Homo sapiens: one gene and its partners. The protein of the gene in region 2 purifies or fractionates together with the protein of the main gene of each other region. This does not show direct contact. Each region holds a gene or a part of one and is shown on either strand. Other genes may lie near its edges. The genes, in order: DRG1, SLC13A3, UFD1 and CLPTM1.

What was found.
Region 1: the proteins of SLC13A3 (region 2) and DRG1 purify together in Homo sapiens (affinity purification with mass spectrometry; one large-scale study listed by BioGRID and IntAct). This does not show direct contact.
Region 3: the proteins of SLC13A3 (region 2) and UFD1 purify together in Homo sapiens (affinity purification with mass spectrometry; one large-scale study listed by BioGRID and IntAct). This does not show direct contact.
Region 4: the proteins of SLC13A3 (region 2) and CLPTM1 purify together in Homo sapiens (affinity purification with mass spectrometry; one large-scale study listed by BioGRID and IntAct). This does not show direct contact.

What each region holds. Positions count from the first base shown.
Region 1 is NC_000022.11:31,414,259-31,422,158, forward strand, and holds part of DRG1 (developmentally-regulated GTP-binding protein 1), read left to right. Parts: intron 1-5,997; coding exon 5,998-6,167; intron 6,168-7,900. UniProt on the Homo sapiens protein: Catalyzes the conversion of GTP to GDP through hydrolysis of the gamma-phosphate bond in GTP. Appears to have an intrinsic GTPase activity that is stimulated by ZC3H15/DFRP1 binding likely by increasing the affinity for the potassium ions.
Region 2 is NC_000020.11:46,558,114-46,566,013, forward strand, and holds part of SLC13A3 (Na(+)/dicarboxylate cotransporter 3), read right to left. Parts: intron 5,439-7,900; coding exon 5,301-5,438; intron 2,086-5,300; coding exon 1,909-2,085; 3' UTR 1-1,908. UniProt on the Homo sapiens protein: High-affinity sodium-dicarboxylate cotransporter that accepts a range of substrates with 4-6 carbon atoms, such as the citric acid cycle intermediates succinate and alpha-ketoglutarate (2-oxoglutarate), as well as other compounds including N-acetyl-L-aspartate.
Region 3 is NC_000022.11:19,467,316-19,475,215, reverse strand, and holds part of UFD1 (ubiquitin recognition factor in ER-associated degradation protein 1), read left to right. Parts: intron 1-115; coding exon 116-148; intron 149-3,407; coding exon 3,408-3,529; intron 3,530-7,212; coding exon 7,213-7,343; intron 7,344-7,900. UniProt on the Homo sapiens protein: Essential component of the ubiquitin-dependent proteolytic pathway which degrades ubiquitin fusion proteins.
Region 4 is NC_000019.10:44,974,951-44,982,850, forward strand, and holds part of CLPTM1 (putative lipid scramblase CLPTM1), read left to right. Parts: intron 1-2,392; coding exon 2,393-2,510; intron 2,511-7,900. UniProt on the Homo sapiens protein: Involved in GABAergic but not glutamatergic transmission. Binds and traps GABAA receptors in the endoplasmic reticulum (ER).

The DNA of each region.
Region 1 (7,900 bases), on a different chromosome or scaffold from region 2:
AATTTGCCCTCTGATGAAGTGCATACCAGCTGCCAACATATCTCTGCTTGGATGTCTAATTAGGTGTCTCAAAGTTAACGTGTAAGATTACATTCTTGATCTTAGCTGAGGCGGGAGGATCACTTGAGCTCAGGAGTTTGAGACCAGCCTGGGCAACATAGTGATACCTCATCTCTATTAAAAAATGAAAGTAAATTTAAAAATTAAAAAACAAAAAAATTCTTGATCTCCCATCCTCAACTTGCTCTTCCCTTAGTCTTTTCTATCTCAGTAAAGGCAAATTTATCCTTCAGAACTTTTAGGTCAAATCTTTTTTTCCCTTTCATCCCGCACATCTACTGTGTTGTTATATCCAGCTGGTTTTACCTTTGAAATATATCTAGAGGCCAGCCACTCTTTTTTTCCCCCTTTTTCATCCTTAAGTGAAAAACTTATGTGACTGACATGCTGGCTACTATGCTAAGGAGGAAACTCTACCAAAAGGTTGAGTTAATCATGCTTCTCAGTTCATGGCACATTTTCTTTTTTTTTTTTTTTTAGAGATAGGATCTTGCTCTCTTGCCCAGGCTGGAGTACAGTGGCATGATCACAGCTCACTGCAGCCTCAATTTCCTGGGATCAGGTGATCCTTCCTTCTTAGCCTCTTGAGTAGCTAAGGACTACAGGCATGTACCATCATACCCGCTAATTTTTTACTTTTTGAGAGACAGTCTCACTATGTTGTTCAGGGTGGTCTCGAAAACCCCGGGCTCGAGAGTCTCTCTCTTCTCAGCTTCCCGAGTAGCTGGGACTGCTGGCATGTACGACCATGGCAGGCTGATTGATTTTTACTTTTTTAGGGGTAGAATCTCGATATATTGCCTAGGCAGTGATTGTTGTCTTACTGTTTTTCAAGTATTTCTCTTAAATTCTATGTCTAATATGATATCTACTAGTTACATGTGACTAACATTTAATTACAATTGAATAAAATTTAAAATTTAGTTCCTCAATTATGTAAACCACATTTTATGTGTTTATTAGCTACACTTGACTAGTAACTACTGTATTGCACAGTACAGATGCAGAATATTTTCATTATTACAGAAACTTTTATTGGATACCACTGCTCTCGATATTAATTCCTTGTCATCTTTAGACATTATAAATATCTTCTCCCGTTAATTTTGTCCAAGGTGGTATTTGTTGAATAAAAATCCTTAATTTTGTTAGAATCTACACTTTATTTGTAGCTGGGACCACAGGTGTGTGCCACCACGCCTGGCTAATTTTTTTGTATTTTTAGTAGAAACGGGGTTTCACCATGTTGGCCAGGCTTGTCTAGAACTCCTCACCTCAAGTGATCCGCCTGCCTCGGCCTCCCAAAGTGCTGAGATTACAGGTGTGAGCACCTGGCCTACTCTTTATTTTTTCTTATGGTTTGTGCTTTTAAAGTTTTATTTAAGAAGTCCTTATCTTTCCTTAGGTCTTAGATATAGTCTCCTGTTTTTTCTATACTTTTAGGTCCTTTATTTACCTAGAGACTACTCTTATATCTGATATTAGAAGGGTATCCAATTTTAATTTTCTCTGTATAATGGGTCACTTTCCCCAACACCTTCTTTTTTTTTCCCCTTTGATTCGTAGTGACTGCAAACTCTTCACCTATATTGTCACTTCCTTCATTATGCCTTGTCTCTAACATTATAGCCCCATAACTGGCCTTCTTGCTGCTATCCTACTGCTCTGTAGTATCTTCTCACTACAGCTAGTATGATTGTGTATAAGAAGTCAGATCAGTCCAGGCACGATGGCTCATGACTGTAATCCCAGCACAGAGGCAGGCAGATCACTTGAGGCCAGGAGTTCCAGACTATCCTGGCTAACACGGCAAAACCCGATCTCTACTAAAAATACAAAAATTAGCTACTTGGGAGGCTGAGATGGGAGGATCACTTGAACCTGGGAGGCGGAGGTTGTAGTCAGGTGAGATGACACCACTGCATTCCAGCCTGCGTGACAGAGTGAGACTCTGTCTCAAGAAAGCAAACAAAAAAAAGAAGTCAGATCATGTCATTTGTTGGCTATACCTTCTGATGTTTTCCCATATTATTTGGGATGAGACCCAAAGTCTTAACATAGCTTACAAGCTACGGTAAATGACCTGGCCCCTGGCTGCCTCTCTGACCTCCTTTTCTATCACTTCAGTCACTGGGCTTAAGATATCACTGGCCGTCCGGGTGTGGTGGCTCACAGTCTGTAATTCCAGCACTTTGGGAGGCCAAGGTGGGTGGATCACCTGAGGTCAGGAGTTCAAGACCAGCCTGGCCAACGTGGTGAAACCCCATCTCTACTAAAAATACAAAAATTAGCCAGGCATGGTGGCAGGTACCTGTAATTCCATAGTCTGTAATTCCAGCACTTTGGGAGGCTGAAGCAGGTGCATCACAAGATGAAGAGATCGAGACCATCCTGGCCAACATGGTGAAACCGCGTGTCTATTAAAAATATAAAAATTAGCTGGGCATGGTGGCGTGTGCCTATAGTCCCAGCTACTCAGAAGGCTGAGGCAGGAGAATCGCTTGAATCCAGGCGGCAGAGGTTGTAGTGAGCGGAAATTGCACCATTGCACTCCACCCTGGTGACAGCAAGATTCTGTCTCAAAAAAAAAAAAAAAAATAGCTGGATGTGGTGGTATGCTTCTGTAGTCCCAGCTGTTCGGGAGGCTGAGGTAGGAGGTTCTCTTGAGCCCAGGAGGTCAATCTGCAGTGAGCCATGATCATGCCACTGCACTGCAGCCTGGGCAGCACACAGACACCCTGTCTCAAAAAAAAAAATAATAATAATAATAAGGCCGGGCATGGTGGCTCACACCTGTAATTCCAGCACTTTGGGAGGCCGAGGCGGGTGGATCACCAGGTCAGGAGATCGAGACCAACCTGGCCAAGGTGGTGAAACCCCGTCTCTGCTAAAAATACAAAAATTAGCTGGGTGTGGTGGTGCGCGCCTGTAGTCCCAAGCTGCTCGGGAGGCTGAGGCAGGAGAATCGCTTAAACCTGGGAGGCAGAGGTTGCAGTGAGCCGAGATTGCACCACTGCACTCCAGCCTGGCGACAGAGCAAGACTCTGTGTCAAAAAATAATAATAATAAAAATAAAATCATGGCTGCTTGGTGGCTCATGCCTGTAATTGCAGCACTCTGGGAGGCTGAGGGGGGTGGATCACTTGAGATCAGGAGTTTGAGACCAGTCTGGCTATCATGGTGAAACCCTGTCTGTACTAAAAATACAAAAAGTAGCTGGGCATGGTGATGCATGCCTGTAGTCCCAGCTACTTGGGAGGCTGAGGCAGGAGAATAGCTTGAACCCAGGAGGCGGAGGTTGCAGTGAGCCGAGATCACGCCATTGCACTCCAGCCTGCATGACAGAGCAAGACTCCATCTCAAAAAAATAAAATAAATAAAATAAAATCAGGCTGGGCATGGTGGTACATGCATGTAATCCCAGCACTTTAGGAGGCTGAGGCGAGCGGATCACCTGAGGTTGAAAGTTTGAGACCAGCCTGACTAACATGGAGAAACCCTGTCTCTATTAAAAATGCAAAATTAGCTAGGAGTGGTGGTCCATGCCTGTAATCCCAGCTACTTGGGAGGCTGAGTCAGGAGAATTGCTTGAACCCAGGAGGCAGAGGTTGTGAGCTGAGGTCGCACCAATGCACTCCAGCCTGGGCAACAAGAGTGAAACTCCATCTCAAAAAAAAAAAAAAAGTCTACCACTGAGGCTGGGCATGGTGGCTCACGCCTGTAATCCCAACACTTTGGGAGGCCGAGGTGGGCAGATCATGAGGTCAGGAGTTCAAGACCAGCCTGAACAACATGGTGAAATGCTGTCTCTACTGCATCTCAAAAAAAGAATGAGGGGTCAGGGTCAGGTGCAATGGCTCATACCTGTAATCCCAGCACTTTGGGAGGCTGAGGCAGGAGGATCACTTGAGGCCAGGAGTTCGAGACCAACCTGGGCAACATTGCAAGACCCTGTCTCTACAAAAATAAAAATTAAAAAAAAGAAAAAAATAGCCATGTGACATGGCACACATGTGTAGTCCCGGATATTCAAGGAGACTGAGGCAGGATGATCAGTTGAGCCCAGGAGGTGGAGGTTATAATGAGCTATGATCATGCGACTGCACTCCAGCCTGAGTGACAAAGCGAGACCCTGTCTCTTCAAAAAAGAGAATTTTAAAAAATGAGGAACTAGAAAGTTGATGGAAGCAGAATATTTTTTTTTTTCTGAGATGGCGCTCTGTTGCCCAGGCTGGCTGGAGTGCAGTGGCATGATCTCGGCTCACTGCAACCTCTGCCTCCCTGGTTCAAGTGATTCTCGTGCCTCAGCCTCCTGAGTAGCTGGGATTACAGGTGTCCACTACCATGGCCAGCTAATTATTTATTTATTTATTTATTTTTGTAGATGGATTCTCGCTCTGTTGCCCAGGCTGGAGTGCAGTGGCGCAATCTCAGCTCACTGCAATCTCTGCCTCCCGGGTTTAAGAGATTCTCCTGCCTCAGCCTCCCAAGTAGCTGGGACTACAGGCATGTGCCACCACATCCGGCTAATTTTTTGAATTTTTAGTAGAGATGGGGTTTTACCATGTTGGCCGGGATGGTCTCAATCAGCTCACCTTGTGATCCTCCTGCCTCAGCGTCCCGAACTGCTGGGATTACAGGCGTGAGCCACTGCGCCGGCCAGTTTTTCTATTTTTAGCAGAGACAGGGTTTCACCATGTTGACCAGGCTGGTCTCAAGCTCCTGACCTCAGGTGATCTTCTCGCTTCAGCCTCCCAAAGTGCTGGGATTATAGGTATGAGCTCCCGTGCCCAGCTGGAAGCAGGATTTTTGACAAATGAATTTTAATATAGAAAAAGGCCAGATACTGTGACTCATGCCTGCAGTCTCGGCAGTTTGGGAGACCAAGGCAGGAGGATTGCTTGAGGCCAGGAGTTAAAGGCTACAGTGAGCTATGATCATGCCACTGCACTCCAGTCTAGGCAATAGAGCGAGACTCTGTCTCTGTCAATATAAATATATATTAATAAAAATAAGATATGCAGGCACAAAAGACTACTTTTTTTTTTTTTTATACAGATTGAATCTTACTTTGTTGCACAGGCTGGTCTCAAACTCCTGGCTCCAAGCAATCCTTCTGCCTCAACCTCCCAAAGTGCTAGGATTACAGGCATGAGCCACTGTGCTAGGCCAAAATAATATATTTTATATGATTCCATTTATATGAAATTCTAAAACGTGCAAACTATGGTGGCAGAAAGCAGATCAGTGGTTGGCTGGCAATAGTGGGGAAGATTGAAAGGAGGCACAAAGGAATGCTGTAGGTGATGGAAATATTCCATGTCTTGATTGGTTTGGTGGTTACACAGGTATATACATTTGTTATTGAACTGTGTGCTTTAACATGGATACAATTAAAAAAAAATTGTACCTCAATAAATTTGGTTAAAAATTTGCTAACCAAGGGTGGGCGCAGTGGCTCATGCCTGTAATCCTAGCACTTTGGGAGGCTGAGGTGGGCGGATTGCCTGAGCTCAGGAGTTCGAGACCAGCCCAGGCAACATGGTGAGGAAACCTCGTCTCTACTAAAATACAATTAGCCAGGCATGGTGGCATGTGCCTGTAGTCCCAGCTACTGGGGTGGCTGAGGGAGGAGAATCGCTTGAACCCGGGAGGCAGAGGTTGCAGTAAGCCAAGATTGTGCCACTGCACTCCAGCCTGGGCAACAGAAAATGTGTCAACTCTTGGGCAAATAGGTGCTGATTTCATGGCATACAAAGCAAATTGACTTCTGGTATAAATCTTCTGTAGCTATAAGAACTTCACGTATGCATGTATGTATTACAGAAAAATCCTTTGACACTTAAATGTAGGGGGAAAAAACACCTCTACTTGAGTATTTGGGTTAGTTAAGGCTTTATTGAACTTTCTTGCGTATGTTTTTTTCTTACTCTTCAGTGGCCCGAACCTGTAACTTGATCTTGATTGTTCTGGATGTCCTGAAACCTTTGGGACATAAGAAGATAATTGAAAATGAGCTGGAAGGCTTTGGCATTCGCTTGAACAGCAAACCCCCCAACATTGGCTTTAAGAAGAAGGACAAGGGAGGCATTAATCTCACAGCCACTGTAAGTGGGGAATATGACATGGGGCAGGCTGCTGCAGGAATTGGAATGGGGAGTGGATTGGGGTGCATGGACCCTGACATTGGAAAATTTCCTGGCTTTTCCCTGCACTAATTGAGATAACACAATGACTTTATAATGACTGACAAGAAAAACTTCAAGATTAGGATAGGAGCCAGTCTCAGACTTACCTTTGCTACTTATTTCCTCTTTTGGATTATCTATTGGGAATGATATGGGCGTGTGGACCAATATTATGCTTGCATAAAGTAGATGGCCGCCAATATCTTCTGTTTTCATTCATTTAACACAAATTTATAGAGTGCCTACCACGGGCCAAGCATTATTTTAGGCTCTGGGCAGGAATGGAAGAGGGAATAGTGAAACCCCCTGCTTTTATATTCTAATTGGATAGAATAGAAAACAATGTTAATGAGTAAAATATAATGTATTCGTCAATGATAAATATAAGAACACAAAGTAGGGAAAGGAGATAAGAGTGTTGGTGTGAGGGTTGCAGTTTTAAGAACGTTGGTCAGGGAAGTCTTTACTGAGGTGACATGAAGGTGTGAACCAAGTGGATATCTTGAAGAAGAGCATTTGCTTCATGCCTCAACCTCCTGAGTAGCTGGGATTACAGGTGCCTGCCATCGCACCCAGCTAACTTTTGTATTTTTAGTAGAGACGGGGTTTCACCATGTTGGCCAGGCTGGTCGGTTTCATTCTGTTGCTTAGGCTGGAGTACAGTGGCACAATCATAGTTCACTGTTAGCTCAAAACTCTTGGGCTCAAGTGACCCTCCTGCCTCAGCCTTCTAAGTAGCTAGGGCTAAGTCACATGCCTCCAGGCTTGGCTAATTTTTTTTTTTTTTTTTTTTTTTGGTAGAAACGGAGATTTGCCATGTTGCCCAGGCTGGTCTTGAACTTTTGGCCTCAAGCTGTCTCCTGCTTCGGTCTCCCAAAGTGTTGGGATTACAGGTATGAGCCACCATACCCAGCCATGTTTTTTATTTCCTGAGCTAAAAAAAAAATGAACTCTTATTACTAAAATGGTAGGACTTTTGGTAGAATAGATTTGGAGGGAAGGAGAAGATCAGGATGTTAAATTTTAGATGCCAGTGAGACATCCAGGTATTTCAGTCAAGAGGGCATGTGGGGTAGGCTGGGCATGGTGGCTCATGCCTGTACATCTATAATCCCAGCACTTTGGGAGGTTGAGGCAGGAGGATCACTTGAGCCCAGGAGTTCAAGACCAGCTTGGGCAACAAAGTGAGACCCCATCTCTATAAAAATAATAAAGAAGGCATGAGGAATTATCTAGGCTGGATATATAAATTTGGTGATTATCAACTTTAATGTCATGGGCCTAACTGAGATCACCAAGGATGTGAGTATAGATAGAAAAGAAAAGAGAGCTGGGTGCAGTGGCTCACACCTGTAATCCCAGTACTTTGGGAGTCCGAGGTGGGCGGATCACAAGGTCAAGAGATGGAGACCATCCTGGCCAACATGGTGAAACCCTGTATCTACTAAAAACACAAAAATTAGCCGGGCATGGTGGCACGCACTTGTAATCTCAGCTACTCGGGAGGCTGAGGCAGGAGAATCGAACCCAAGAGGTGGAGGTTGCAGTGAGCCGAGATGACGCCACTGCACTCCAGCCTGGTGACAGAGCGGGACTCCGTCTCAAAAAAAAAAAGAAAGAAAGAAAGAAAAGAAAAGAGAATCGGCCAGGCA
Region 2 (7,900 bases):
GCAGAGTAAGGGGGTGGAGAGTAATGAGGGTGACATTTTAGACAGGAGGTCAGGGAAGCCTCTCAGGGAAGGTGACACCTGAGCAGGGACTTGAATAAAGTGAGTCGGGGAACCAGACATATACTTGGGAGAGAGTGTTCTAGGCAGAGGGAACAGCACATGCGAAGGCCCTGAGGCAGAGTATGTAGCTGGAGAGGGGAGGGAAGAGCAGTAGAAAATCAGAGAGGTCAACTCTGTGGAATCCCCAGCCCAGGAATTTGGGGCTTTGAAGCTCTCTTATGTTCAGAAAGGCAAATCATCTCCAGGTCCAAAGTTGATTAACATTCTTTATTTCACAGTATTTTTGATCAGAAGTCTTAGAAATCATGATTCATCTGGTTACAAATCCCATGAGTTTCTCTTTGAATGAACCTCTTGCTTCCAGTCCCATACAACGCATCTCCCACCAGCCCCAGTGGGTTGTAACTGTGATTCAACACTGAGTGCTCACTTGGAAAGGAGGTGGAGCTCAACTTCCAACTCAGAGGGCCTCTCCCACTGCTCTCAGGGAAATGCCCATGATTCACTTATGCTGTATCAACAACAAGTGCAGCTGGGCGCTGCCTTCCCAGCTGGCCAAGCGCTCCTAGGGGAATCTCCACCCTCAGAGGCTTAGGAAAGGGAAGTGTGACGAGTCAGGGCCCCTGGGCTGGTGTCTTTTCCAATACTGGGCTAATGCTGGGCCATTCCATTCAGCAGACACTTCCTGAGGGCCTGAGCTCTTCACTGGGATGCCAGAATGCTTCTGCTTGGAACAAAGAGGGATTAACCCTTGAAGGCAGACACCACTTCCAGCCTCGGGCTCACGGGGACGTCTCAGTTTTACCCATATGCAGAAGGGGACAATCTTTTGCTTGCCTGAGACATTTTACCCTGGCCTTTTACAAGGCCCCAATTTATCTTTTGACTTTTCTCTCACCCCTGACAAATGGGGCCTTTGATAATTAAACATGCTTACCACTTAAGGTGGGGCATGGAGAGATCAAGGCCACCTGCTGGGACAAGCAGCAACTGACCGCCTTGCAGCCACAGAGGCCTATGGGGGCCACATGTAGGAGAGTCCTGGCTGGAGGGGTCATGAGTCACCCCATGGGAGGGCAGGACCCAGGCCTGGCCTGACCCCAGAATTATGGCCAAACTGACCCAGATGAAACAGGAGAATCCTAAATCTCTTGGGTCGAGATGTCAGCTGCGGTTTCTAGAACTTCCCCTGGTATGCTCAGGAGCCCAGAGAAACAGCAAAGAGGCTTTGCACAGTCTCATGTCCTTGGAAAGCTATCTGTCCCTTTCCCTGTCTCCAAGGATTAAAAAAGAATCTCTGACTGCTGGTTATCGGCAGGGGTAAAACAACTGGTGCAGAATGGGCACCAACTAAGCAAAATCACACACTGGTTGTGAACAGCTGGAACAACTGGGTTGGAACATTGCAGCCCAGGAAAGTGATCTTTAAAGACAAGGTGGTCTCTTCAGTGTAATCGAAAGTAATCACTGGGGGATAATGTTAGCTGTGCCCATGGGAATGAATGGCCTCCTATCCCAACTGTACGAGACAAACACCATGCCAGATTTGCTCACTGTTGATGACACTGGGCTGTCTTGTATCCTAATGATAAAACAGCTAACTGATAAAGGAGCTTATTTCTCAGGCAGCAGATCTGAGAGATACCTGGGCTTTGAACTGCATGAAAGAGAGAGAAAGTATCCTAGATAATGGCTCATGGACTTGAGTGGGCCACTGGAGGTCACCCTTGCTTGCTGCATATTGGATTACAGAAAAGAATTATTTGATTGTTTTGTAGTGTCCTAGCAGCAGGTGATGGTGACAGCCCTTTGAGAGGGTTCAGCCTCAAGGGAGTCCTCCAGGGGGACTCAGAGGGTCCGAAATGTGTCATTGGCCAAGGTGGGTGGCAATGCTGTGACATTGACCGAGTACATATCAGCCCAGTCCGGGAAGGTGCCCAGCTGGAAGATGGTCTGTGCCCAGGTATTCATAGCCAAACTGAGCAGCAGGACACCCATCAGGTTCATCAGGAGGCCTGTCCGCACCTGAAATAGAGCCCAGACAGAGGGAGGGGTCAGCACCTGACCCACCATACAGATGGAAACATTCAGACTCAGAGACAGGAAGTCACTCACCCAAGATCGCACAGCCAGGAAGTGATGGAGCCAGGACACAGACCCAGGTCGGTAAATGCCTGGGACCCTTCAATCTTTACACTACCCTAGGCTGTCACTCAAAGAGCTGCAAGTGTCCCCATTCATTGATGGCCTCTAGGTTCCAGGCACTGTGTGCTACGCAGTTGTCACAGGGTTATGCTGTTTAACCCAGAAAGCAACCTTACAAAGGTCATTCTTATTAATCCCCATTTTATAGAAGAGAAAAATGAGACCTAGAGAAGTTGACTTGTCCAAGGTCACCTAACTTGAAAATAATCTTGTCTGATCACTAAACACCCCCATCCCACACACATATACACACACGCATGCACACACACACGCATGCATGTAGGAACACACATATGTACACATAGGTACACACACACACTTCAGGTCCAGTCCAGTCAGGTAGTCCTAGTCAAGACTACCCTTGTCCATTGGGAAGCATTTTTCTTCTGTCGGTGGAGAATGTGCCCATCTGCTCCCTACCCTGGCTGGCCTCTTGGACCATTCAGTCCACCTTGGGCTGAAAATCCTTGTTTTCCCACCTGGGTCTTCTGGCTGCCCCGCCTTCACATAGCCCAGGCTGAATCACATGGTGAGACAGTTACTTCCTTTCTAATTCTCTTTCTGTCTATTCCTCCCAGAGAAAGTCTCTCTTAGGGGTGTGATAGGAAAATAAATCTTGGGGCCCCCAAATTACTAAGCTAAAGAGAAAAGTCAAACTGGGAACTACTTAGGGCCAACCTGTCTCCCATTCTATTCAGTCATCCCTCTGCTCACTGAGTTGAATGCATATCTGATTGCCTTCTTTGGAAAGGCTCATCAGAGACTCAAAATAATGCAACCATTTGTCTCTTATATACCTATGACCTGGTAGCCCCCTGCCCTCTTTGAGTTGTCCCGCCTTTCCGGACCAAACCAATGTTCATCTTACATATGTTGATTGATGTCTCATGCCTCCCTAAAATGTATAAAATCAAGCTGTGCTCCACCCACCTTGGGTGCATGTCGTCAGGACCTCCTGAAGCTGTGTCACAGGCGTATGTCCTTAACTTAGGCAAAATAAACTTCCTAAATTTACTGAGACCTGTCTCAGATTTTTGGGGTTCACAGGGGCCACCATGGCTTCAGCACTTCTCTGCTCCTGTCAGTTGCCCTTTTAACAAGGAGAGGCCCAGAACCTTCTCCAGGCAGCTGCTATCAGGGAGAGCTTAATTCTTTTGTTTTTGCCGCTTTGCATTTATTTTTAGGTTTACTGGCCATGGCATATATTAATAATACCGGTTTTCCATTGATGGATGCACTGGAAACATTTCTTCTGGAATATTCTTATTCAAGTTTTTTTTTGTTTTTTTTTTTTAATGTCAAGCTGATTTAGTAAAGGTGTTAAATAAATATTACCACGGACGGGTGGGGGACATACTGCGTGTGCTGTCCTGCCTCTCTTCTAAGGGCACAGAGGTGGAAGCCCTGGCACCTTCGGAGGATTAGAGGGAGTCGGGCCGACATGTTGGGGAAACTGGGGGAGGATTGGGTCTCCCTTTGCCAGGGCTCAAAATTCCTGCTGGTCCCATGTTAGCTACTTCATTAACACCTAACTCATTACTCTCAGGAGCGAACCTGCAGGTGGGCCATCCCTGCCCGGGACTGGCTGACCGGGGGTGCCCCTTGTACCCCTCCACATCTCTTGCAAGTCTCTACCTCTTGGGGACTCTCCATTTCTCTGGCTGTCTTTATTCTCCAAATCTATGCTGTTTGCATTGCTGCCCTCTCAGTCTTTTTCTCTAAGTAGCCTCCCTGCTTCCACACTTGTCCCTCCCACCCTAACGATTCACTCCAGCCAGCAGCCAAAATGATCTTCTACAGACAGAAGTGAAATCACATCATTGCCCTGCTTACCGAGGGTCCCCACTGTGGTTTGAATAAGATACCAAGTCTGTCCTGTCCCCGCTGTTCCCTGACCTCGTGTCTCCAACCTCATCCTTCTCCAACTCCACTGCAGCCACCCCAGCCTCCTGGCCCTGAATTTCTGGAGCACTCGCTGCTATTCCTCTCTTCCAGGCCTTTGTACCTGCTGTGCCCTCCATTGGGACTGCTCTTCCCCTTTTTCTCTGTGAGGCTGGCGGCTTCCCATGATCATCAGCTCCCATGTCACCTTCCTGGAGAGGGCTTCCCTGCCACCCCTCTCCCCCGTCCTCTTACACTTCCTCATGTTTTATTTCCTTCTGAGCACCTAGCAATATTGAAATTTTACATAATTTAGGAAAATCTGCTGAACTTGTTCACGTCTGTCTCCACCAATAGAAAGCAGCCTCCTAGGAGGCGGATCGGTGTCTCTCCCACTCTGCAGTGCCCCCAGTGGCTGGAACATAGAATGCACTCAGTAAATAGTGCTGTAATGAACGAACAAATCAATGAGTCTCTGTCTCGTCTCTTCTCTGTTTGCTCTGTGTCTCCCTTTCTGCCTCGCTCTCACTCTCGCTCTCTCTCCCCATGTGTCCTGCAGGGGTCTTGTGCCTGGAGGGCCTGCATCGCGATTGGTTAAGCAGGTCGCCCGTCTTGGCTTTGACAGCTTTGGAAGGGTTATTTGCAAAGCCAGTGGAGAGGGAAAAGGCCGCAGGAGTCAGGAGCGGGAAGGGAGGAGCTGGTTCAGCAGGGACCTTCCGGGGGAGGGAACATATTGCCAATGGCTGGGCCCTGCTGAAAGCTGGTGGGGTCCTCCCACTGCTACAGTCCTCCGCTTCTGTCTCCTTCCCAGCTGGCTGAGCACTGAGGCCCACCCCTGAGTCCTAGGGTGTGTCTGCTGCTTCTCTCCCCCGAAGATTCTGGGCACGAAGTGGGGTCCAGAGGGAAGGGGAAGTTCCTTGCCTCTGGAGCAAATTTTGGAAAGTAGTCACTAAGGCAGTGTTTCCTGAGATTGTCTAAGTGCAGGAATCATCCCAGAGTCTCTGCTAAATGTATGTTCCTGGTCCCACTCAGAAAGATCTATTCAGAGACTGGGGAGTGGGGTCAGCGTGCAGGAGTCCTGCATAGAGGCCTTGCCCGCCCCCTTGCGGCCCACCCACATCCCGGGGCCTCTGCTGGGAAATGCCCAGACTCACCATGTCTTTGACCAGCAAGTGTCCAGAGGCGAAGGCGATGGAGTTGGGGGGCGTTGAGACCGGGAGCATGAAGGCAAAGGAGCAGCCGACTGTGCCCGGAATCATCAGATACAGGGGGTGCACTCTCAGGCGGATGGCCTGGGCCAGGAAAAGGTGGGAGAGACCCGGAGAGAGACCAACGCAGAGCGACCACAGCAAGAGGGAGAGAGAGAGAGAGAGGCAGTTGGAAAGAGGGACACAAAGACGTAGAGACAGAGAGACAAAGACATCCATAGAGATTGGCAGAGTGGCAGAGAACAACAGGGACAAGTGAGAAGAGAGAGTTAGAGAGACAGAGAGAGAAAGGCAGTCAGAAAGACACATGCACAGGCAGAAACAGAGACAAGCAGGTAAGAAGAGAACCAGATCGAGAGAGAGGTGGAGAGAACATTCCCAGGGTTAGTGACATTCAAGGGCCACACTGTGGTTTGATCAGGGATGGGCTGGGGTGGTGTACCTAGAACACTCCTTCTCCAATGTGAGAGTGCAGAAAAGCACTTGGAGGGCTGGTTAAAGCCCACATGGCTGGCCCCACCTCACCCAGAATTGCTGATTCAGCAAGTCTGGGGTGGGATCCAAGAATCTGCATTCCTGACGTGTTCCCCCGGTGCTGCTGGTCTAAGGACTGTACACTGAGAACCAGGGCTTTAAAATACTTCCTCTGCCTGCTCCTTCCCTCAGCCAAACAATCTCAACCCAGAGTTGGCCTCTGGATACCTCTTGTTGGGGGCATCCCTGGATTTCAGTGAGAAAGAGAGCTCATGAGAGCATCTGTTGGCAGCTCTTCCAAATTTCTAAGACTGTGTGTATCAAACCCCCCTATGAGCTGGCCTCAGCTAGTGGGCCACCAGTTTGTCACCTCTCCTGCCTACAATTCATACTGATCACTTTTATGGCGTTTTACTTAAATAGGATATTTTTGGGCCTTCTAGGGAATTTTTGCAACCCAAAGCATATTTATTTTCTCAAAAAGCTCTAAAATCACCCCCTTGCATGTAAAATGTTTTTTGATTTTGATGATAAGCAAAGTTTACAAGAATGTGTCATTTACAAGTGTCTTTTCCAGCAAAAGCTGCCCCTTACAGACCTGGCTGGGTTCTATGCTCCGTCTCCGTCCCCATACCCCCTATAATACTCTCATTTCTCTCAGTGACCAGGTCCCTCTGAGGACTCCCACCCCATACTGCTATAAAATGGTGAGCCACTTTGGAGGGCAATTTCCTCATCTCTAACGACATTTTAAACGTACATGCTCTTTGACCCAGGAATCTCAGTCACAGGAATTTCTCTAGATGTAATCAATGAATGCATAGACAAGGCTCAGGTGACACGTCATTGTTGAGTAACAGCAAAGTCTGGAAATACCTATATTTCCATTGGGCAGAGAGATTGCTTAAATAAACCAACAACTGTCCATTTATAATGGAATATTCTCCCGTCATTGAAAAATAACACAGTGTATATCTGTGTGCTAACACAGATAAATTGATGCATAAAATAAGCAGACAGAAACCAAAGACAAGGTGCTGCAGGTATGTGTGCTGGGGCATCACTGTTTGCATACAAAGCATTTACTTGCATCATTGATTTAATTTTATCAGCGTGGGTTACATTAAGGTAATTACATGGTCTGGTCTTTAATCTGTTTAAATATAAAACTATATTGATAGTTTCCTTTTTAAAACTCCTAGTATAAAAGCTACCTGATCATGTGTATATTGTTCTTTTCATTCTGTCATGGTTTCATTTTGCTATTTGCATTTCTTTTTACAGGAGATTGAATTATAGCTTTCTCTTCCCTTGCTCTCCTTACCTGGTTTTGGGGCCAGGGTTTTGCTAGCTATAAATTGAGTGGCCATGTCTATTTTTCTATGCTGGTGAACAGTTTGGGTGAGTTGGGAACTCTCTGTTCCTTGCAAATCTGCTAGCTCTCACCCAGCAAACCACCTGGGGCTGGTGATTTTGTTTTTGTTTTTGTTTTGAGACAGGATCTGGATCTGGGTCTGTTGCCCAGGCACCTGCCACTAAGCCTGGCTACTTTTTGTATTTTTTGCAGAGATGGGGTCTCACCATGTTGCCCAGGCTAGTCTGAAACTCCTGAGCTCAAGCAATCTGCCTGCTTCAGCCTCCAAAAGTGCTGGGATTACAGGCATGAGTGGCAGAGCCCGGCCTGGGGCTGGTGATTTTTAGCCCAGGAGTCATCAGCTGGGTAGGGGGAAGGATTTGTTCCCCTGACGGGGATATTTGGGAATGCTAGGAGACATTTGGATTGTCATGATTTAGGGAGGCGCCACTTGTCTCTAGTGAGCAGAGCCCAGGGATGCCACTACACACCCTGTAGTGCACGGATCAGCCCCATACAGAGAATGATCCAGCCCCAACTATCAACAGTGTTGAAACCCCTGCTTTAGAGGGAGGCTACTGCTTTGCTTCCATTAGAATTTCTCCTATGGCCATTTGTTTACTCAGATTTTCTACTTCTTCTTCATCCAAAATTGGTAATTTACCTGTTCTAGAAAACTCTCCATGTCACCATGGGTTAATTTTCCCAGAAGAGAGAA
Region 3 (7,900 bases), on a different chromosome or scaffold from region 2:
GGCTACCCTAAAAACAGTTTAAGGCTTTTTGTTAGATATAAAGAAACTGCATCTTGCCTTTGGTCTGTCCTTTTTATTTTTATTTTTTAATATTTCTTAAATGTTCTTTCCACAGTAATTATGCCACCCTCGGCCCTGGACCAACTCAGTAAGTATCTTCTGAGTGACTTAAGGACTTAGATAATGTACATATGGACACCAAGAGTCAGCATGGGCTCCTCAGTACATCCAGACACCAGTGCCCTTTGTCAGCATCTGGTTGTGAATTGTCCGTGGAGGGCATGCGCTGGGCTGGGAGAACCTGGGTCACAGGTACCTAGGGCGAGGCCAGGGCCCCCTGAACCTCAGCTTCATCACTGCCCTGGGTGCTTCAGGTTCCTCCTCTGTGAAGGGGGTTCCCTTTCCCTTCCTGATCACCACCTCCACCCACCCCCCAACTGTTCTCAGTATTCTGTCAGGATTAAGTGAAGGTACAAGTATCAAGTGCTTTGTACCGTGCCAGGGCAGCTGATGCCATTGGCTGGGCTCACTAGATTTTTTTCCTAAAGGAAGAATTGGTCAGCTCACAAGAGGGCGCTGTGAGCAGGTTCCTCATCCCCTCACCAAACATCTTTCCTGAGCTCCAGACCCCCATTTCTTTTCTTTTATTTATTTATTTATTTATTTTTTGAGACAGAGTTTTGCTCTTAGCGCCCAGGCTGGAGTGCAGTGGCGCAATCTTGGCTCACTGCAACCTCTGCCTCCCAGGTTCAAGTGATCCTCCTGCCTCAGCCTCCCGAGTAGCTGGGATTACAGGCACCCGCCACCACGCCCGGCTAATTTTTTGTATTTTTAGTAGAGATGGGGTTCCGCCATGTTGGGCAGGCTGGTCTTGAACTCCTGACCTCAGGTGACCTGCCTGCCTCGGCCTCCCAAAGTTATGGGATTATAGGCGTGAACCACCATGCCCGGCCCAGACCCCCGTTTCTAATCTCCAGTGCACCAATGCATCCTCAGCATGTCAAAAACTGAGCTATTGTCTTCCATCCAGAAGCCACTCCTCTTGCTGGGCTCCTGCCTCTTACCAGGAGTGAGATAGGCCCACAGGGGTTCTAAGAGTGGCCACATTCTTCCTCCCTTTTCTCTGACCCCTTATCCCATGAGAGCAACCTGGAAACCCATGCCCTAGCCCCATACTACACAGGCACAGAAAATCCCTATCATGGACAACCCAATCAAGGATGCAGTCATTGCCTTCCAGACTTAAAGAGTGTTTCTGGTGTGAATTCTTCCTGTGTGAGGCAGGAGACTGGGGTTGGCCAGGAGGACAGGTTCATGCTTGGTTTTGGGGGCCTCTGGTGGCAGCAAGCAGAGAACAGGTGCTGGCTGTGGTGTGACTCACCTCGGGCTCTTTGCCCAGCCTGACTCCAGAGTAGCAACTTGACCTCTCTGAACCTCAATGTCCTCTTCTTTAATTGGGGATATCTACAGTGTCTGTGCATCAGAAGTACTGTAGTGTCTGTGACAACCTAAGCTATCCGATTCCAACCACAAGGTGGAGGTAGCCCCTGAGCCAGCACTGGCTGTGGCTATACCCAGTGGAGGCCTCAGCTCAACCAGTAGGTCAACAGAGCTATGGAGTTCACAGTTCTCACGAAGACCCTGTCATTACAGAGGAGAGAACAGGCTCCCTAAAAAGGTCTTCCTTTCAAGTCATGCTGACCCAGGAGCCAGACACCAGGGGTGACCCTTGGCACAGGTGTCCAGAAGAGACTCAGGGGCTGGGTCATTGAGGTGTAGCTCAGATCAGTGTTGTTCAAATCTTTTAAGTGATGGGAGAAACTCTTTCTGTCTAAATCTTATAGGAAGTCCTCTAATTCATAAAATGAGGTTCTCTGCTTTTTTTGGAGAAAGTGAGGGGGTACAGAGGGACTGGGAGCCCCAGGGCACTGGGAGCCTCTAAGTCACAAAATGCAGTTTGAGAGTCAGTGGACTGAGGGACATTGGAGTCTCTTTCACTTGCAACAATCTCAGACCCTTGGCTGAGCCCAGTCCAGTTTACTGTGGACCAGCTGTATGTCAGCTCCATGGCTGTGCAGCTGAGAGGTGGACCGGGACAGAGGTCCTGGCCCCTTTACTGCCAGTGTGAGAGTCACCCTTGGTGATAGGAGGGAGTGCCCACCCTTACTGTACCTCCATGCTACTCTCAGAGGTTCTCTGTAGCTTCCTGCCCAAGCTTTTAACTTGATTTGCTTTATTAGAATTTTTAGGGAGATCTCAAATGGAATCTGCGTTACTTCCTAACACTAAGTGTGATTTTTATTGGAATATTTGTCTGAACTAACAAGCTAAATTCTGCTTTGATGGTTGAATCCCTGGACTTAAGCCAGCAGCCTTGGTTTGAATCCTGGCATCACCACTTGTGTGCTGTGAGGTCTTGTGTGCTCACCACTTGTGTGCTGTTACTTAACCTGTGGGCCTTAGTTTCCCCATAGATAAAAGGGGATAATGATAGTACCTACCTGACTGTTCTGGGAAGACTGAACAAGGGCCTTACACATGGCAAACACCATCACTACCATCAGTTCCTTCTCGGTCTTCTCCCGGGGGCCCAGTGTCTCCTGGGTTTTCCTGCCTCTTTTTGCCAGCCCTTCCTTTATGTGCCTGTGCACCTCTTGGGTCAGCACGTCACCAGTCCAGCTTACTTGCCTCTGGCCTTGCTTTCAGCCCACACCTCAAGGTCCATCAGAGAGAGGGGGCGTCCTATGTCATGACCCTGCTGAGAGCTCACACTGCCCGCTGGGCCCAGGCCCTAGGTTCTACCCCGTGTGGTGCCCCTCCCCTTCCCAACCACTCGCACACCTGTCCCCAGCCTGTCTTGCCTAATTATCCACCATTTCTGAACTGCCTGGGCTCCTCTTCCCTTCCACGCCTTTGCTCAGGCTGCCACCTCTGCCTGGATTTCCTCCCAGGTCTGCCCGCCCAGTGCCCAGCCTAAAGAACTCGGCCTCTAGGAGCCTAGCCCAGTAGCTCTGCCCCCTCCTGCCAGCTCTTCCCACAGCACCTGCAGCATCTGGTTGTGGTTTTCTTTGTTGGAAGGTTTCTACCTTCAAACTAGAAACCTTTGAAGGTCGGGATTTTGTCCAGGGCATGGTGGGCACTGAAATTATTTATGAATAAATGAATGAACACATCACTTTTTAAAATGTTGACTTCAGAAAATCACAAGTCTATGCCAGTGCTGTGTTACCAAGTTGCCAGGTTCCTCCTTGAGCCGTGCACTGTGCTCTCACAGAGGGGGATTCATCTGCCAGAGGAGTGTGGGGTTGAGGGCAGGATTGTGGGGAGGCTCCTTCTATGGGAAGGCGTGGGCCGAACAGGTGTCCCTTCATAGGAGCTGTGCCTCATAGTCTCTCTCTTATTTTCAGGCCGACTTAACATTACCTATCCCATGCTGTTCAAACTGACCAATAAGAATTCGGACCGCATGACGCATTGTGGCGTGCTGGAGTTTGTGGCTGATGAGGGCATCTGCTACCTCCCACACTGGGTGAGTGGGGCTGCCAGGGTCTCTAGAGAGCAGCCACTTAGGCAGAGACATCTCCTGCACTCGAGAGTCCTGGCCCTGGAGCAGGTGGCCCCGCCTACTCCTCCTGCTCAGCGTCTTAGCCTGAGCCGACCCAGCGAGAGAGAAGGGATCCAGAGCAGTGCACTGTGCCTTATGCGGGCTGGTGGGCTCTGGACGCACCTGTGGGCCACTGTGCTGTGGGAGTGGCCTTTTCTTTGATAGTTGCGCAGCTGAACTGTTCATCTGTGATTTCCTGGGTGAGGCGTTTTTAAAAATAATGGAGCAACAGTATTTTTTAGGTGGTCTAGTAAGTAGGGTGTTTGAGGTTTTTATGCTTTTCCCCTACTTTTAGTAGTCTGTCACAGCATACATGTTTTCAGTTACCTCTGACGTAGTCTCCCAAATCTCTCAACTGAGCTGCCATGGGAGTGACGTCTTTTTCCTTACAAGCAGGCTCTCTTTGGAAAGTTGACTTGAAGGATGTCATTGCAGATCTGGGCTGGGATATCCAGGGCGTGTGAGCCACCAGAGCCTGCCCTCAAGGCTGTACCCCTCAGAGAAGTGAGCAGAACTGTGCCAGTGCTGTAGGGAGGAGCCTGCAGCAGTGAGAGTTCCACACAGGTAGCTGTGGCCCACTTGGCTCCTTCTTCTCCTCACTCCTCTCCCCAGCTCTGGCACATTAGGGAAGTTCACAAAGGGACCTGCTTGTCCTTCTCTTTGTGCTTGGATTACATCAGGCATACTGAGAGACCCCGCAGTGAGCTGTGGGCTGGAAACTCTCAGGAGTGCTTGCTTGGCTGCCACCAGGGAGGTGGTCTGAAGCACAGCCCACCTCTCCTGCTGATGCCCTATCATGGTGGCCGCCAGACGTTCAGAAGGGATGGCCTTAACTAATATTTTCTGAGATTAAATATGAATTGAAATTCTGGCCAGGTACGGTGGCTCACGCCTCTAATCCCAGCACTTCGGAAGGCCAAAGTGGGCAGATCACTTGAGGTCAGGAGTTCGAGACTAGCCTGGCCAACATGGTGAAACCCCGTCTCTACTAAAAATACAAAGACTAGCCGGGTGTGGTGGCACGTGCCTGTAGTCCTAGCTACTTGGGAGACCGAGGCAAGAGAATGGCTTAAACCCAGGAGGCTTAGGTTGCAGTGAGCCGAGATCATGCCATTGCATTCCAGCCTGGGCGACAGAGCGAGACTCCATCTCAAAAAAAAAAAACAACAATAATATGAATCAAAATTCTGAAGGTCTCTTTCCTGCTGTAGCAGGTGACCTTGCCCATGCTGCCATGGTAGTGGCATCCTCTTCAGCCTGGGTCCCAGGGTCCTTCCCAAGGTCTGGGCCTGGCCAGTGTCTCCCCGACAAGAGCCCTGCACTCCCATTGCACCTCCTAGTGCCTGGCCTTCCCATGCTGCCTCCTCACCTCAGCTGACTAGGCCTGCCCAACCTGGCCTGTTGGGGGGCTTTTATGCCTCAAAGCCCAGATTGGCTCACCTGCCCTCCCCAGTATTTGCTGCTCAGCCCCTTGCTATTCTTGTGTTTGTCTGCAGGTGCCCCCAAGGGCCTGAGGCCACATTGTGCTCATCCGGTAGAACACCTGGTCACTGAAGCCACTCTAGGTAGCTGAAGTGTCAGGCAGTGACTACTTCCCCAGTCCCTTCTGTGGCTCACCTATAAGAGGAGGTGGTGATGCTGGGGATACACTGTATCTCGAAGGTTCTCCTTTAACCCATAGACTTGAAGTTTGGGTGGCCTCTTGTCCAAGCTGTTGGACTGCTTTAGACCAGGAAACTAATTGAACCCTTTCTCCCCTGGAAAGCCTCTTTAGGTAGCCTGGAGCTGGTTTGGGGTGTGAAGCCATCAGGCCACCTCTTCCCCTGAGCTGGCCTTCCAGCTCCTGGCATGGGCAGGCGGGTGACAGGTATACCCCATCTGCTGTCTTGGAGGGCATGTGAGCCAGTGCTTTTTCTGGGCTGGCTGGTGGACTCCATCCCACCCATGCTCCCAAGCTTCTTCAGGGCGAGCCAGCCTGGAATAGGTACTGGCCTTTTTCCTTGTAGCCAAGGCTTCGTCTGCTGACCTAGATCCGAGCCCTGGACTAGCCGTTTGTGACATGTGGGTACTCGGCTGCCCGTTGTGCTGTATGCTCTAAAATGCTGCATGGGGAGGGCCAGGCATCAGCTCCTCCTGCCTGCTTAGTGCTCTCAGGCCTCTTCCAGCAGCCCATTTCTCACCTCAAGCCCTAGTCTGACCTCTCTGCCTGTCCTCCTCACATCACCTATGGCAGTGTCCTGCCTCTGGCTGAGGAAGCCACCCCCCATCCCTGGCCAGCCTTCCCTCAGGCTTGCAATTGCAGCCCAGTATCCTTCCCCTCGCTGACAAATTTCCCACAAAAATCTACCCAGGGACAGTGCGCCTGGCCTGCGACTGGCTAACTCTGAGCCTTAGAATACTTCCTGTTAGAACATCACTCCTGGGGATGCCAGACCCCCGTTACCAAAGCCAGTCACCTCTGCATCCTTCTGTGCCTGCCTGTGGCATTTGGTAGAGTGACCACCCTCTATTTCTGCCCTTACTAGCCTGACAAGCAGCTGTCAGCGTGAGTGCATGGGGTCCTCTGCAAGCCTATCCATAGGGCCCACCACTCAGGCTTCACTCATGGCCTAGGCACGGCTTCCCAGGCACAGCCTCGGCCTCAGCATGCCTCTCCCTCCTCATGAGCTCCCTCTCATTTGTGACACAGCCCTCAGCCCCCTTTTCCCTTGGCTGTTAAAGTCACCTTCTCACTGCCACTCCCGATGAAACATTCTTGAAGGGATGTGATACCTGGGATTTGCTTCAGGGCATCTAATGTGGCTTGGGACTGGGTGTGAGGTAGTGCTGATCGATGGACTGAGCCACGACGTGAGCACTGTCCAACTGTCAGGGCTCGGTGCGTGGGAGCTCTCTTCTACGGCTCTTTCTACTGATGTATATGTCTGACACCCCTTTTAAGACGGTTTCAAATAAGACAAGCAAAATTTCATTGCAAGAGACATAGAGCTTCTGACCTGAGTCTGGACTCCCTGCACACCCAGTACTCATGGGCATTGTTTATCTCTTTCCGTCTCACTTCTCAGCCGTCGTCTACCTGGCTGGGTTGTTTAATAGAGACATGTGGAGGCTTTGTCAGATTTTTATAACCTCCTTAGCAGAGACCTCTGGGGTCTGTCACCATCTTGCAGCCTCAGCTGTGGTGGGCCATTCCATTGCCAGGTCAGCCTTGCCTTGTGCTGCTTTTGTCCTACCTCAGGTGCAGCCCTACTTGACGCAGGGCCTTATAATTTGCTTGTGGGACAGCTTGGAAGTACAGTGAGTGACTATTCCAGGAAAATGCTCTGCCCCTGGGAAGCCTGGAGCTAGTGAGTAATCCGGGCAGCCCTGCAGAGATGCGTTCACACTGTGAGCTATACAGCTTCAGTAGCACCCCTTTATTGGCCTTCTTCCTTCCACATCACTTGATTTTTCCCTCCTTCCTGACATAGTATCACGAATTACTTATCTTGGCTCAGGTTCCTCTTCCAAGGACCCAAGTAAGACGGGCCTGCCCAGTGTATAGGGAGCAGTGGTTGTGGAGGCTGCTTCATCTCTAGGAGTCTCATGTAGCCTCTTCTTCCTTTCAGATGATGCAGAACTTACTCTTGGAAGAAGGCGGCCTGGTCCAGGTGGAGAGCGTCAACCTTCAAGTGGCCACCTACTCCAAATTCCAACCTCAGAGCCCTGACTTCCTGGACATCACCAACCCCAAAGCCGTGTATCTTTTTCAAATAAGCGGAGTTCTTCTAGACAAAGGAGAGTGTGCTGGCGGTTGTTAAACATCATGTACTGTATTGAATCTGTGCCTGCTTTGGGGATCACACATTTGTGATTCAAGTTGTGATTTGAGAATAATGGGGTTCAGCTAGCACATCTGCGTGGCCCTGGCCAAGTGCACTGGGTGCTGTCTGGGCCACCTCTGTCACTTTCCAGACACTTCATGGAGACCACAATGAAGCCCTTCTTTCAGTTGGTCTGTGTCACCTGGCACAAAGCCAGGATGCACAGTATGTCCAGTGGAAGGAGGGAGCAGCTTATCTGCCTTCAGCTCCAGCCCCTTCTGTGGCTCCCTAGTACCTCCGCCCAGCTGTGCACTGGCCCGTCAACCTCACTGCATGCCAGCCTGAGAGCTGATTCACTCCAGGCCAATAGGTAGCAATGACTGCAGTTTCTATGTCACCAAGCAGAAAGCAAAGGTATCAGGTTCTAGTGGATTCTTTTTGTTCACCTCTGAACTTAAGCCAGGTGTATGTGTTGACAGCATCAGGAAGTAGG
Region 4 (7,900 bases), on a different chromosome or scaffold from region 2:
GATTGAGCTAAGTGCAGGGTACTAAGCTAGGCTGACTCATGGAAATTTCCCGGCAACCCTGTGAAGCAGGAACTGTTATTATTCTCATTTAACATGTGAGGAAACTGAGAGAGAAGGAAAGTGATTTACCCAAGGCCACATCGCATGAGAGATTCAGACTCAGGCTCTACGGCTGTGGACTCTCGCAGCCCTAGGCTCAAATCCAACCTCCTCCAGGAAGCCCTCCCTGACTCACAGAGCACTCAGGCTTGGTTAAGCACCCTCTCTGGGTTCTCACACCTGCTGGGCTTCCCCATCCCAGCCCATTCTGGGGCCTCATTGGGACTCCTGTATGGGACTGTGAGCCTTGTGATAATAAGGCTGGGGCTGCCTAGATCACTTCCATGTCCCCAGCACTGCCCAACGTGGGGCTGGGTGCAGAATCAGCAAGTATTGAACAAGTAAAAGGGACATCTCTCTTTGGGGCCTTCTTCGGCTGAGTCCAAGACAGCTGCCCTCATTCCTTTCTCCCCAGCAGGCCTTCTCAGCTTTGGGGTGGAGGGCACATTTCTGTTCTATTTCTGTCTGGGTAGCTAGAAGCAGAATGTGGACACAGTCATTCTGGTTTTTTTTTTTGTTTTTTGTTTTTTTTTGAGACAGCGTCTCGCTCTGTCACCCAGTCTGGAGGGCAGTGGCGCAACCTTGGCTCACTGCAACTTCACCTCCCAGGTTCAAGCGATTCTCATGTGCCAGCCTCCTGAGTAGCTGGGACTAAGGCACACATGATCACACCCAGCTAATTTTTTTATTTTTTAGTAGAGACAAGGTTTCACTATGTTGGCCAGGTTGGCCTTGAACTCCTGACCTCAAGTGATCCACCTACCTTGGTCTCCCAAAGTGCTGGGATTACAGGCGTGAGACACCGCGTCCAGCCATCATTCTTTTCTTTTTGAGATGGGGTCTTGCTCTGTTGCCTAGGCTGAAGTGCAGTGGTGCAATTACAGCTCACTGCAGCCTCAACCTCCTGGGCTCAAGCAATCTTTTCACCTCAGCCTCCCAAGTAGCTGGGACAACAGGCATGCACCACCATGCCCAGCTAATTTTTTGTAGAGATGGGGTCTCAACATGTTTCCCAGGCTGGTCTCAAACTCCTCTGCTCAAGCGATCCTCTCACCTCAGCCTCTCAAAGTGCTGGAATTACAGGCATGAACCACCCCACCTGGCTGGACTTTCTGACCTGCACTGAGAGGTGACTCCCACAGAGACCTCAAGCCCAGCCCCCAGGCCTTGCCACGAGATCCAAGGAAGGACCAGGGCCTGGCAGGCCCAGCAGGGGGATCTGCTTCCAAGGGCTTGGATCTAAGTCGAAGCTTCAGGGTGGGGTCCAAGTGGACTTAAAAGGCAGGAGAGCTGGGCACAGTGGCATGTGCCTGTAGGCACAGCTACTCAGGAGGCTGAGGTGGGAGAATGGCCAGAGCCCAGGAGTTTAAGACTGTAGTGTGCCATGATCGCAACTGCAAATAGCCAGTGCACTCCAGCCTGGGCAACACAGGAAGACCCCATCTCTAAAAAAGATAGGGAGAGTGAGGAGAACACAATGTGGCCAACTGAATTCGAGCTCTGCACAAGGATCAGAGAGGTTCAGTGCTCGCCTTTGTCTCCACCCAGTGCCCCTGGACAACTTGCCTCCCTTCTTGAAGCCTCAGTTTCCTCATCTGGATCAAGTGAGAATAGTCCCCCTTCCCTGGGAGGCAAGGAGACTTGATGAGATAATGAGGAAGACTTGGGCAGAGAGGGGCCAGCTGGAGGTAGCAGGGAGTAGCACCCAGGAGCCCACAGACTGGGTTTCCATCTGCGTACTTGCCACACACTATGTGACCCCTTGGCATGAGCCCCGTTTGCCTCATCTGCAAAATGGGGTGGTAACATGACCCATTGCATAAGGTTGACATGTTATATGTGTGTTAACTCGTTAGATTAGGAAGCTGTTGTCTGAAGTGCCCAGGGCAGGGTCTGGCCCATAGTAGGAGCTCCATGTCGGTCAGCTGCTTCTTCCTGTTGAGTGAGCTTAACGAGAGCTCGTTGACTGAGCTGTGTGCCAGTGCTCCAGGTAGTCCCTGCAGTGGTGCCCTCGGGTCAGTGCTGTGGGAACTTCGCATCCTCTAGGTGGGGCCCTGAGGCTCAGAGAGAAGCTGAGCTCACACGGCCATGGCAGGTAGAGCGGGCGTCTGAGTCTGTCTGACTCCAGCATTTACCTCTCTGCCACCCAGCTACATGCCCCACCCTGAGTACTCAGTAAATGGCCAGAGAGTTGAGGGGGAGGAAACTGCTGCAGATGGGTGCCAGGCAGGGCTTTAACGTTTCCCTCACCCCAGTTGCCCAGCCTGCCCACCTGACCTTCCGTCTTTTGCAGAGCGTCCAGCAGAACGGCTCCATCTACATCCACGTTTACTTCACCAAGAGTGGCTTCCACCCAGACCCCCGGCAGAAGGCCCTGTACCGCCGGCTTGCCACAGTCCACATGTCCCGGAGTAAGTCGCTCCCCTGCAGCCAGGACCCACTGTCCAGGAGGCCAGCATCCTGGGAGCCCCCAGGCTAATGTGGCGGACAAATCCCAAGTCCAGGAGGGCAGGCAGGAAGCCTGTGCTCAAAGAGGGTGGGATTGGCAGGGCAGGCTCAAGCCCCACCCAGCCTGAAAGAGCCCTGTGGACACTAAGCAGGGATACCCACGGAGGAAGGGAGACCCACGGAGGCTCAGGGACCAGAGAGAAATTGGCCAGAAAAAGCAGCTGGAGACAGGGACTCTTGGAGAGGAGGAGACGTCCTTCACCAAGGGGGAAGGGCCAGGGTTGACTTTTGCACAGTAGGGGCCTGATAGAAGTAGACACTCAAAAATAATTTGTGGGCTGGGTGCAGTGGTTCATGCCTGTAATCCTAGCACTTTGGGAGACAAGGTGGGCAGATTGCTTGAGCCCAGGAGTTTGAGACCAGCCTGGGAAACATGACAAAACCCTGTCTCTACCAAAAAAGACACAAAAACTAGCTGGGCGTGTGCCTGTAGTCCCAGCTGCTCAGGAGGCTGAGGTGGGAGGATCGCTTGAGCCCAGGAGGTGGAGGTTGCAGTGAGCCAGAATCACACCACTGCACTCCAGCCTGGGTGACAGACCGAGAACCTGTCTCAAAAAGATAGATAGAGGCCGGGCACAGTGGCTCACGCCTGTAATCCCAGGACTTTGGGAGGCCGAGGCGGGTGAATCACAAGGTCAAGAGATAGAGACCATCCTGGCCAACACGGTGAAACCCCGTCTCTACTAAAAATACAAAAATTAGCTGGGTGTAGTAGCATGCTCCTGTAGTCCCAGCTACTTGGGAGGCTGAGGCAGGAGAATCGCTTGAATCCAGGAGGCGGAGGTTGCATTGAGCTGAGATCACGCCATTGCACTCCAGCCTGGTGACACAGCAAGACTCCGTCTCCGTCTCAAAAAAAAAAAAAATAGATAAAATTCAAAGAACAGTGTGGGCAACATAATGAGACTTCGTTGCTACAAAAATTAATAGCCAGGTATGGTGGTGAGCACCTGTGGTTCCAGCTACATGGGAGGCTGAGGTGGGAGGATCGCTTGAACCTGGGAGGTCAAGGATGCAGTGAGCTGTGATTGCACTACAGCTTTCCAGCCTGGGCGACAGAGCAAGTCCACGTCTCTGAAAAAACAATAGTAATAAAAAATAAGACTACCACTTCTACTCCCATGATAACTCATTAATCCATTAAACCACTAATCCATGAATGGGTTAATCAGTTCCTGAGGGGAGGGTCCTCATGACCCAGTCACCTCTTAAAAGCCTCATCTCTCAGTACTGGCACATTGGGGATTAAGTTTCACTGGGAGTGGGGAGTACTAGAGTACATCAGTAGTCCCAGCTACTTGGGAGGCTGAGGTGGGAGAATCAGCATGAGTTTTGGCCAGGACAAACATTCAAACCATAGCATTGTCCGTCCTCTTGTTTTCGAGAAGTTAATAATTGTTGTCATCTTTCTGCTTGCCTGGCTCTTTTTTTTTTTTTTTTTGAGACAGGGTCTCACTATGTCGCCCAGGCTGGAGTGCAGTGGACTATCTCAGCTCACCACAATTTCCACCTCCCAAGTTCAAGCGATTCTCCCACCTTAGCCTCCAAAATAGCTGGGACTACAGGCACACGCCACTACGCCCGGCTAGTTTTTGTATTTTTAGTAGAGACGGGGTTTCGCCATGTTGGCCAGGCTGGTCTCAAACTCCTGACCTCAAGTGATCGTCTGCCTCGGCCTCCCAAAGTGCTGGGATTACAGGTGTGAGCTGCCACACCCAGCCTTGCTTGGTTCTCTGTGAGCTTTTTCCCTGAGTCCTCTGTCTCCTGATGGGCAGCCGTAGAAATCTCTTGCTGTACCTGTTTGAGCGGAGCTGGAGAATGGCTTCCTCAGAAAGCCCCCCATTCTTCTAACGGGAGTTCTGTGTACTCCACCTAGCTTTCACTTTATTGAGGACTATTCCAGACATTCCCTGTGGATTTGGTTAAGATCCATCTGGCTGGTTTTGGGTGGCGCAGCAACAGACAGAATTCTATTTGTATGAGTTAGGTCTTACCTACTTCTTTTAGTACAAAAATATCCTAAAGGATGGTAATTTTTTTTTATCACCTATACTGGATGAAATGAAAAGTTGACTCTATGTGGGTCCCTAGAAATGACTTGGAAAGGTCTTCTGGAGTTACTTGAGCCCCTTTCTGAGTGAGTGTGTCTGAAGAATGTGCTGCGTTGGTATGTCCCACCCGGCTGACGTCCATGTGGTGAGATCTTTGGAGAACCAGGCAGAAGTGGCTTGAGGGGGTGTGACCTACAGGGTTGGTCTCACAGATGTTTCCCTGCAGGGGGATACGTCAGGGGTCTGGGCTAAAATGCCCGATGTTTCAGAGGTCGCTCTGAAGGTGACCCAGGTGGGTGGCTCTTCACCCTATTCTTGTACCCCGTTTGACGATCACCTAATCATCCCGTTGACCCAAATCGATGCCAGTATTTTCTGCAGTTTTGTCTTTGGTGAGTGTGATCCATGTCACTGTGTGGTGAGGTTTATTCACAGTCAGTCTGGTCTGTAAAATAGAACCTGCAGACAGTGAACCTGAAAAGCATACTAGGATCATCCAGGCCTCCCTCCCCAGCCTTGGAGCTGGGACCCTCAAAGCAGGGACATAGAAGGACTTGGAGTGAGCCACCCACAAACTCCAGGGTGAAGGAGAGTGTGAGTTCAGAAAAGCCCCCTTTTGGCTGGTTGTGGTGGCTCATGCCTGGAAACCCAGCACTTTGGGAAGCCAAGGCAAGCAGATCACTTGAGGTCAGGACTTCGAGACCAGCCTGGCCAACATGGTGAAACCCTGTCTCTACTAAAAATACAAAACTTAGCTGGGCATGGTGGCACATGCCTGTAATCCCAGTTACTCGGGAAGCTGAGGTGGGAGAATCTTTTGGACCCCGGAGGCGGAGATTGCAGTGAGCCGAGATCGTGCCACTGTACTCTAGCCTGGGCGACAGAGCAAGACTCCATCTCAAAAAAAAAAAAAAAAAAAGAAAAGAAAAGCCCCTTTTATCCCCAAGAGGCCAATAATCAGTATTCTAGAGCAGCTCCGTCCCATGGAGATAGGATGTGAGCCAGAGAAGGCATTAAAATTTTTCCAATAGAAAAATACTAAAGAGTAAAAAGGTAAAGAGAGGCCAGGCACGGTGGCTCATGCCTGTAGTCCCAGCACTTTGGGAGGCCAAAGTCAGAGGATCGCTTGAGCCCAGGAGTTTGAGGCCAGCCCTGGCAACATAGGGAGACCTCATCTCTACAAAAAAAAATTTTATTTTATTTTATTTATTTTATTTCATTTTATTTATTTATTATTATTTTTTTTTGAGATGAAGTCTTGCTCTGTTGCCCAGGCTGGAGTGCAGTGGTGCAGTCTCGGCTCACTGCAAGCTCTGCCTCCCGGGTTCACGCCATTCTCCTGCCTCAGCCTCCTGAGTAGCTGGGACTACAGGCGCCCGCCACCACGCCCGGCTAATGGTTTTTTTGTATTTTTAGTAGAGACCAGGTTTCACCGTGTTAGCCAGGATGGTCTTGATCTCCTGACCTCGTGATCCACCCGCCTTGGCCTCCCAAAGCACTGGGATTACAGGCATGAGCCAGCGCGCCTGGCCTATTTTATTTTATTTTTTTTTGAGACAGAGTTTCACTCTTGTTGCCCAGGCTGGAGTACAGTGGCATGATCTTGGCTCGCCACAGCCTCCACCTCCCAGGTTCAAGCAATTCTGCCTCAGCCTCCCAAGTAGCTGGGATTACAGTCATGTGTCACCACGCCCAGCTAATTTTGTATTTATAGTAGAGATAGGGTTTCTCCATGTTGGTCAGGCTGGTCTCGAACTCCCGACCTCAGGGGACCCACCTGCCTTGGCCTCCCAAAGTGTTGGGATTACAGGCGTGAGCCAAAAAATTTTTTTAAATTAGCCAGATATGGTGGTGCGCAACCTGTAGTGTCCTCCGACTCAGGAGGCTCAGGTAGAAGGATCATTTGAGTCCAGGAGGTCAAGGCTGCAGTGAACTGTGATCAGGCCACTGCACTTCAGCCTGAGCAACAAAGCGAGACCCTGTCTCAAAAAGAAATATAAATAAAATAATAAAAAGGTAAGGCCAGGGCCGTGATGGCTCACACCTGTAATCCCAGCACTTTGGGAGGCCAAGGCTAGAGGATTGCTTGAGCCTAGGAGTTCGAGACCAGCCTGGGCAACATGGCAAAACCCCCCCTAATAAAAATACAAAAATTAGCCAGGCATGGTGGCACATGCCTGTAATCCCAGCTACTCGGGAGCCTGAGGTAGGAGGATCACCCAAGCCCAGGAGGTTGAGGCTGCAGTGATCACACCACTGCACTCTAGCCTGGATAACAAAAGGAGACCCTGTCTCACAAATAAATAAATAAAAAGGTAAAGAAAAACCATGAGATTAATATCAATAATAGTTTAATTGAGCTCAACATATTCTCGTTTCAACATATGATCAGTATAAAAAGTGAGATATTTTACATTTTTGTTTCCCCTTGTGTCAGTTTTCAGAATCTAGTGTGTGTGACTGGGCACGGTGGCTCACATCTGTAATCCCAGCACTTTGGGAGGTTGAGGCAGGTGGATCACTTGAGGCCAGGAGTTTGAGACCAGCCTGGCCAACATAATGAAACCCCAGCTATACTAAAAATACAAAAATTAGGCGGGCATGGTGGCTAACGCTTGTAATTCCGTCTACTCGGGAGGCTGAGGCAGGAGAATCACTTGAACCCAGAAGGCAGAGGTTGCAGTGAGCTGAAATCGTGCCACTGCACTCTAGTCTGGGCGACAGAGCGAGACTATGTCAAAAAAAAAAAAAAGGGTCTAGCGTGTGTTTTATATCATAGCACTTCTTGGTTTGGACCAGCCATATTTGCAGTGCCCAGTAGCTGCATGTGGCCAGCAACCCTGATACTGGATGGTGCAGCTCTAGAAGATTTTCCTCCAAGAAAGGGGGGCTTTTTCCTCCCCACAGGAGCCAGGTCCATCTGGTCTGGATGCCTCCAAGCTGCAGAATGTGTTCTTTGCCTGAGCCAAAGCCTCTCTCCCCTGTGCCTCCCCCTCCACCAGCCAGCGCTGCCCTCTGGGGCTCTCCCTTCCCTGGACAGTCTCTGTCAGGTGTGGACACGATTGGGGCATGTCCCCCTGGAATTTTCTCCAAGTCAACCCTTGAGTGTTGGTTTCTCCCCCTGGACACAGGAGGAAGATCCCCAATGATTTAATAATCATAGAAATGATGAGGATTGGCCAGGTGGCTCAAGCCTGTAGTCCCAGCAATTTGAGAGGCCGAGGCAGGTGGATCACTTGAGG